Regions from separate parts of the Homo sapiens genome. Here all the other regions are linked to region 3. Evidence: fine-mapped expression QTL. A gene starts in region 3. Each other region holds a variant in brackets. All regions are shown on one strand. Distances are from middle to middle. Region 1 overlaps LOC124903291 (a long non-coding RNA gene). Region 2 overlaps CARMIL3 (capping protein regulator and myosin 1 linker 3). Region 3 holds the start of RIPK3 (receptor interacting serine/threonine kinase 3).

What was found.
Region 1: its variant is fine-mapped to the expression of RIPK3 in fibroblasts (GTEx, PIP above 0.99).
Region 2: its variant is fine-mapped to the expression of RIPK3 in whole blood (TOPMed, PIP 0.96).

The regions. Positions count from the first base shown.
Region 1 is chr14:24,364,899-24,367,670 of GRCh38, reverse strand. It overlaps LOC124903291 (a long non-coding RNA gene), which reads left to right. Exons shown (of 2, transcript XR_007064085.1): 2 at 1,144-2,155. It also overlaps a transcript of NFATC4 not described here. Among named protein-coding and RNA genes, the nearest start is that of NFATC4, 1.9 kb to the left of the region's middle. RefSeq lists a silencer at 747-1,056. The variant A/G (reference allele first, on the strand shown) is at 1,377.
Region 2 is chr14:24,057,300-24,059,799 of GRCh38, reverse strand. It overlaps CARMIL3 (capping protein regulator and myosin 1 linker 3), which reads right to left. Exons shown (of 40, transcript NM_138360.4): 15 at 1,921-1,997; 16 at 1,736-1,840; 17 at 1,576-1,645; 18 at 1,039-1,120; 19 at 814-910; 20 at 611-665; 21 at 358-530; 22 at 68-136. Among named protein-coding and RNA genes, the nearest start is that of CARMIL3, 6.5 kb to the right of the region's middle. The variant C/T (reference allele first, on the strand shown) is at 1,337.
Region 3 is chr14:24,338,800-24,341,299 of GRCh38, reverse strand. RIPK3 (receptor interacting serine/threonine kinase 3) reads left to right here and starts at 1,309. Exons shown (of 10, transcript NM_006871.4): 1 at 1,309-1,493; 2 at 1,703-1,843; 3 at 1,976-2,285. The coding sequence starts at 1,474. RefSeq lists enhancers at 1,354-1,423, 1,444-1,643, 1,874-1,943.

The DNA.
Region 1 (2,772 bases), 26 kb before region 3:
TCTTCCGCCTCCCTTGCCTGGGGCTACTCTGCCCGGGCCTTCTGGAAGTCTTTGCGCTGCCGAATCAGCGCCTCCATCAGCCATTCCTCCAGGACCCCCAAAGATGAAGAACGCTTAGCCAGCCTGGATGCCTCTGGGAGCAGTCCGAGCCAAAGAGGCTTTGAGAACTGTCCCTAGGCCCACAGCCCTTGATGGGCGTAGATCCAGGCCAGGCTTTGCCGCTGCCCTTGTCCCAGCCACCCAGAGGGGCCGTGAATTAGCCTCCACGGGAAGTTGGCAGCCTCCTCCCTAGAACTGTAGTCTGGAATGAATCTCTGACCCGATAGCATCCCACTCCGGCTCTTCTAAAAATCCTTGCCAGGTTTACTAGGGGCCTGAAACCTCCGGACCCTGTGGGTTCCCCTCCTCTTCCCCCTCCTTGGCCCCCCCGCCCCCAACAGGCTGGACACCTGTCACCTGGGCTGGAGGAGGAAGGAAGACCTGGACTGGAGTTTCCGGGAAAGTCAGGCTTGGAGAGGCCTGGGTTGTGTGAGAGGGAGTTAGATGGGAGATTCGTGACTCGGTGGGAGATACTGGCGAGGCTGGCGGGTAGGAGAGATGGGAGGGTGGTTATCATTTTCTCCCACACACACACAGTTTCAACCTCTCTTAGAGGCCGCGTCTCCAGTCTCTAAATCCCTCCGGTTCAGGGCCGCACCCCCAACGCCGCCCCATCCCAGCAACTAAACGGTTAAGCGACGGCCCCAGGTCAGACGTTTACAAACACTCAGAAGCCGGGCGGGGACCGCGCCCGTTACTCTAATGAGAAACAGGCTCTACGGGACTGGGGAAAGAAGGGAGGGCTGGCCCGACGGGCCGGAGCTCCGCAGCGGCCGAGGCGGCTTCCCTCCCTCCCCTCGGTCCTCCCTCGGGCCCGCCCAGGGGACCACCCCCCCAGTCCCCGGGGACCCCAGTGACGTGCGGAGCTGCCCCGGCTCCGAGCCCAGGGCCGCAACACAGGAGGGGCGGGGAGAAGAGCCCAGGCCGGCGGGGAGAGAAGAATGTTCCGAGGCCGAGCGGGGAAGCGGCCTGGTTTGATTTTCTTCTTTCTTTTTTTTTTTTTTCTTTTTTTTTTCTTTTTTTTCCTTTGGTTGGTCTCCTCAGGTTACATTTCCCTTCCAGCTTCATCTCGGAAATAAAGGAAGGAGAAACCCACGGGGAGGGAGGACGAGGAACACCTCGACCCATCAACCAGCCTGTACCTAAGAGGGCAAGGGAGGTGGGAAGCGGAGGCGAGAAAAGCAGGGATAGAGACCCCGAGGCCCAGCCCCTGTTCCCCCAGACTCTGCCCCTCCCCGGCCCCACTCCCCGCAGGCACAGCACATGCAGACGCACAC[A/G]TTCTTTTCAAATGTCATATTTCCTTTGATCCTGGGCAGCGTTTCTCCATGTGTCTGGCTCAGCTCCTGCCCAGCCAACCGCCTTCCCCTCTCACCCCTGTTTGTTTTCCTGGAGAACCCTCCTCCTCCTAGCATCTGGAAGGCCCTGAGGGCTGGCGTCGGCCCTCATTCCCCTGATGACTCTGGCCTCTCCTCCCATGACTCAATTTCCCCTTCATGGGTGTTGGGGGGTAGGGAAGGGAGGAGCAGAGGGGAGAGTGGTTGAGATTGTTCAGAGTGCCAAGCTTCTCTGAGGCGGGGGGCGGGGGGGCATCCCCTTGACTCTGAAAACCCTCCAATCTGTCTCGGCTGCGGCAGAGAGATGGAACTTATGACTTCTGAAATGCTCGGCCTGGCGTTGGAGCCTGGGCAACAGCGGGTAGTTGCGGATTTAAGTTGCCCTACACTTCTGCCCCCTGGCGACCAGAAAGACCCAGCCCCCCCGTCCTTGGTTCGCGGTTTCTCTAGCCGCCTGGCCTCGGTCTCAGCTCCGCTGCCTCCTAGCGCACATACCGGAGCACAACCCGGCTTTCTTACCTTGGTTGGTGGCTTCTGCTCTGCACTTTAACAAGCATCATTCAACTTCCTTGGAGGTGGATGTTATTTATTTCTTTTTTTAATTACACAAGATGCAGTCTTCTCTTTTCCCCAGAGGTCTAAATAAAGCTAATTAATATGCATTCTTCTTGTAAACAATTCAAGCTATACAAAAATATGTAGTAAACCTTGATGGTCCACCATTTTGTATGCCTTTATTAACATGTACGCACACACACATGCTCTTTTTATGCGCGTGACAAGCATTTTTCTTGCTTTTTTTTTTCCTCACTTAACAAATGGTTGGAAGATCTTCTCCCATAGTACCATCTGAAAATGATGATGAAAATGCCCACCTTTTCAGTAGATAAAGTGACTTTTACAAATCAGGTTAGCAATAGAGTTGATCTGGAACCCAGGCCTCCTGGGTCCTTGTCAAGTTTGCTAATTCATTCCATCACATTTTACACAGGAATCTGTCCCAGGCTTGGCTCCTCCAGTAAGTAGAGCCTGAGACAAGAACAGGATGTAGGTAGTTTATAGTGAAAAGCAATCAGAAGGAACAGAAAGAGAAGAATGGAAAAAGTGAAACTGGAAAGAAGAAAAGCCAGTCCAAGGGTGTGCTACAGAACAGGTCACCACTCTGAGCAACTGGGATATTATCCTACTGAGACCATCTGTATAGCCACAGAGAATGTAATTGAAGAGAAGAGGCCAGCCTTGTCTCTACTAAAAATAAATTTTAAAAGGCCGGGTGCAGTGGCTCACCCCTGTAATCCCAGCACTTTGGGAGGCCAAAGCAGGCAGGTGGATTGCCTGA
Region 2 (2,500 bases), 280 kb after region 3:
GTTCAGGCCTGATCCAGGCACAGGGAGGCTGGGGACTTGGATCAGGGCAGGACCATGGTCTACTCACCTCTCCAGGGCCCTTGCGATGTCCAGGAAGCCCAGGGCAGATGTATTGTTCCGATCCCATAGGATAGTTCTGGGGGGAGGGTAAGCACCAGTTTGGCACCTCTCCTCCTGGGTCCCTACTAGGGGCCAGGGACACAAACCTCTTGGGGCAATAAGGCTGACTCAGAGATGGTTCTGGGGCTGGGGGTCTTCTGGAAGCTGGGGTCCAGAGCATCAAGGAAAGCAGGGAGATTATGTACATATGGGGAGGGGCTGGGGCTCCAGGTCAGGGGGTCCCGGTGTGGGCCCCACCTGAGGGAGGAGTTTATCTGCAGGGCCTTAGACAGCATCTTGGCCCCGATGTCCTCCATGCCATTGCCGCTCAGATCCACCTTGGCCAGGCAGGTGTTGCTGCCCAGGGCATTGATGAGGATGCTGGTGCGAAGCTTCAGCCGGGAGTCTGCCACCGACAGTGACTGCAGGGACTGTGTGGGCAAGGGGCGGTTGGACCCAGTCCCCACAGCCTCCTCCGACTGCAGGTCCCCTCCCAGGCCCAGGCACTCACACAGTCCTCTTCCTGGATCAGCTGCACCAGCTTGTGGAGGATCTCCTCCAGGGTCCTGCAGGGAGGCGGGGCTCAGAGTAGGAGGGGAAGGGCTGGGGTCATGCTATTGGAGGAGGAGAGAGGTGGCCAGAGGTAATACGGTGAGCCAAGAGGATGGGTGAATGATGGGATGAGGGTCTGTGGGCATGGAAAGGGGGCCTCACTTGGCCTTGACATTGAAGTTCTTGCCCAAAAACAGGTGCTTGAGGGACTTGTTCTTGCCAAGTGCAGGCACCAGTGTCAGGAGGTCCGAGTCGAACCCTGGTGAGCAGATGGGAGAGGCCTGGCCTGGAGGCCTGAGGCTGACTGGTGTCCCATCAGGGCTGCTTCTGCATGCTCCAGGCCCCTGTTCTCCCCTGGCCCCAGGGAAGGGAGGAACCACTACTCACCATTGTCTGACAGATCCAGGCTGCCTACACAGGTGACAGCTCCCAGCTGCTCCTGCAAGGCTTGGGCTCCCGCTGAACGGAGCTGCAGGGACAAGGTGAGGTAGGGAAGGCAGGGGTTGGGGTGGGGGTAGGGCACCTTTAATGCTTAGGATATAGTAGTCACACCAGAACTCAAAGTCATGCCAGGATCTGGGTGTAAAATCAGGGAGACTCTTTCCCCACACCAGATCCTTCCCTAGAGCTGGCTTCCCTCCCTTCGGCCAGGAAGGCTGCTATTCCTAAGACAGCTTGCTCCTGC[C/T]CTCTGGTGGAAAAGTCTGGTATCTCCCACCCCAAAGCTTTAAGGGCAGAGATACTAGAGACTGAGAATGAATGGCCTCTGGAAAAGAGGCCAGACTGAGAGGGGAAAGTGGTGGTGTGGCCAGGTCAGGGGGTCGCAGAGGGTCAGCACAGAGGCTAGATGGAGCCAGGGTTTGACTTAGGTCTGAGAAATGCACATGGATCGGAGGCGGGCAGAGGGGTTGGGGACTGAGGGCTCACCTCGCAGCTGCTGAGATCCAGGTGCAGGTCACTGAGGTGACTGTTGAGGGAGAGGCCCTGAAGCAGCGCCCTGTGGGAGGGAGGTCAGCAGGCCCTCCTTTACCTCTTCCCGCTCCCCGTGGTTCCCTTGGATGCGCCCCCAACCCTGCACCCACCCGACCTGAGGGCCTCCAGGGGCAGCTTTGTGGCCGACAGATTGACGTGGCTCAGTGTGTAGGCGCTGCTGAAGAACTGCTTGAAGGCCGGCGGGGCCTCTCGACCCTTCCTGTGGAGAGACCCCTGGGGTCAGCGAGGGAGGGGGTTGGCCATGTCTTGCCCTGTCCTCCCTTCCCCCTCCTCTCCCACCTGTGGGAGCAGCTGTTGCGAGCCAGGTTGAGGTAGGTGAGGTGGGAGCAGCAGCCGTGGAGCAGGGCACCGAGAAGCTGTGGGGGGAGATATGGTGGGTCTCAGGGGAGCTGGAAGGGGGTAGGGGGTGGCAGGAAAGGACTCCCCCTCCCTCCCCATCGAGGTTCCTGGCTCTTCATTCTCTGTGGTCAGCCTGTGTGAGCTCCACTGGAGATGCCCACTCAGATTCTTGAAGTCTCTGTTTTCTCCCCTGTGGAACATGGGTCTACTCCCTGCCTGGCTTCCAGGGGCATGAAGCTGCTCACAGGCAGTGGATGTGTAAAGCCAGGGCCACCACTGACTCCTAAGGTGCCTTGTTCAAGTTAGGAAAAGCATCCATTCCCCTGGTGGAGCCAGGGTGCACAGCTGGGGAAGGGAGCAAGGGCTGGCTTTTAAGCACAGCAAGCACAAGCTTGTGACCTGGATAAAGTGCCACACAGGTATGAACTATGGACATTGCTTTATACTTCAGCTGAACCTGAAGTCATCTAGACAGCTCTGCCCGCCTGTGTACTCAGGGATAGGGGGTGAGACCGAGGCC
Region 3 (2,500 bases):
ATATTTATTGGGTATCTGCCATGTATTGGCTTTTAAGGAGACTACGGTTGAACAATTCCCTAAATAGTTCCAAAATAGCATGAACTGACCCTGCTAGAAGCCATGGTGTGGCTCTCCAAGAGTTGTTTTAGAAAAAACTACAGATCACTTCTGCCTCAACCAGCAGAGCCCATGGACCACTGAACAAAATGGAAAGCAAGTACCAAGGTGAGCACCTTTAGTGAGAGCCAACGCACAACCCACAGGATTGAGTATCCCTGTGAAGGATTGAGTGCCTAGGGCAGGCCCTATCGGGTTCCCACAACCTCCAGTCATGGTCAGACCTCAGAAAGGTAAAATATGGACACCTTTTTTCTGCCCTAAATCTTTAAGACTCTCCATGCTTCTGGGTTATCAAAAGACTGTGTCCAGAGCATGTGCTTGTCAGGAACATTAATTAGGGTATTTGCATGCAAGAGTTGTCATGCAAGGGAGAGGGCAGGAAAGCTCTGAGGTGTTTCCACTGTAGTGTACACCACAATGTCACCAACCCTCTGGATGGGCTGATAAATCTAGCCTTACCACAATGCCCTGGGAGTGGGCTTGGGGCCTGCCACCTCCAGGAGCTCCTGTTCAAAGGGCATATAAGTCCCTATCAATGCCAAAGACTTGCCTCGCAAGAGCAGCTATAGGGACTGGGCAGGAATACAGATAGGGATCCTTCACTACATTGTTGGATGCTTCACACCTTTCCCAGCCACCTGCACGACCAGCTGAGTGGTACAGCCCTGAAGCCTATGTGAAAACAGGATAACTTGATGGTTCAGAGCCATTATTTCCATATGGGCTTAGGCAAGGTACTTAAACTCTCAGTGTCTCAGTTTCCTCACCTATAGAAAGGTAATAAAAGCAGTACCTATCCCCTTAGGGTTCGTGTGAGAATTAAATAAGCTAATATATATACCTGGTGCATGATAAGTTTTATATACGTGTTGGCTATGATCTTAGGGCAGCTGTGAGAGAGCTGAGCCCTAGAACCATAAAACCCTCCTAAGCACCATCTCCACTCATGGCCTGGCAGGTCGTGGAGCAGGAAATCCTGTGGGAAAAGGGAAGGCTTTGACTGTAGGAGTGGGTTGATTGTGGGTTCCTGGAAGGTGAGGACTCCTTCCCTAACATCCTCAATGCCCAGCAACACCTAATCTGGCTGCGGCAGGTGCTCAGGAAACGCTAGTCAAGGAGAAAGGCACTAGCTTTCGCTCTGCCCCCTGCCCCACCCCAGGGGCGGGACTGTAGAGGCGCCTATAAGGGAAGTTGTTCAGTCAACTCGGAAAAAGGGTAACAACCCGGAAAGTAGACTCACCGTCTTGGTCTAGAGACTGACCCCTGCACAGACAGACCCCTTCCCCTCTCTGCGAAAGGACCAAGCCCCAGAAGTCACTCCATCTCCTACGGCTCGCAATTTCCAGAGGCCCCCTGGCACCTTCCAGCCTGATGTCGTGCGTCAAGTTATGGTGAGTAGGGAGTGGCATGTCGATCGCAGCCTCCGACATTCACACCCAGAGAGCCCCACAGACTCGCTCAGAGAACGTCTTTGAGTCCGGGGACGGTGGGGGCCGGCGAGGGAGGCTGGGGATTGCAGTGAGAACGCCGAGTCACAGGGGCGCGGGGAGCAGCGCTGAGGCACGGCACGGCCGGCTAGTGGGCGACACCCCTCTCTCAGGCCCAGCGGTGCCCCCGCCCCCTTGGTGTCCATCGAGGAACTGGAGAACCAGGAGCTCGTCGGCAAAGGCGGGTTCGGCACAGTGTTCCGGGCGCAACATAGGAAGTGGGGCTACGATGTGGCGGTCAAGATCGTAAACTCGTGAGTGACCCCGGTTGACCCCAGCCGCAATCTGGCCAAAAAGGTGGAGCCACTGTGCTCTGGGGCCTGAATGGCGAAGGGAGGGATTTTCCCACGACCCCGGTGCGACTCCAGCTCTCTCCTGGAGTGTAGGAAGGCGATATCCAGGGAGGTCAAGGCCATGGCAAGTCTGGATAACGAATTCGTGCTGCGCCTAGAAGGGGTTATCGAGAAGGTGAACTGGGACCAAGATCCCAAGCCGGCTCTGGTGACTAAATTCATGGAGAACGGCTCCTTGTCGGGGCTGCTGCAGTCCCAGTGCCCTCGGCCCTGGCCGCTCCTTTGCCGCCTGCTGAAAGAAGTGGTGCTTGGGATGTTTTACCTGCACGACCAGAACCCGGTGCTCCTGCACCGGGACCTCAAGCCATCCAACGTCCTGCTGGACCCAGAGCTGCACGTCAAGGTCAGCTGGTCTACACCCCTCTCAGCCTCAAGACAAGGCCCCAGAGCTGCTCCAGCCAGGCCCGCCGGACACTAGACCTCCAGAGCCCTGTCTATTGAATAGGCGTAGCCTCTCTCTCTGGACACAGGGCTGCCAGGGGACAAAGCCCAGCCAGGAGTTTTAGCTCCTGCCTACCAGGTGATAGAGGCCCTGAGCCACACGAGTCATTTCCACCA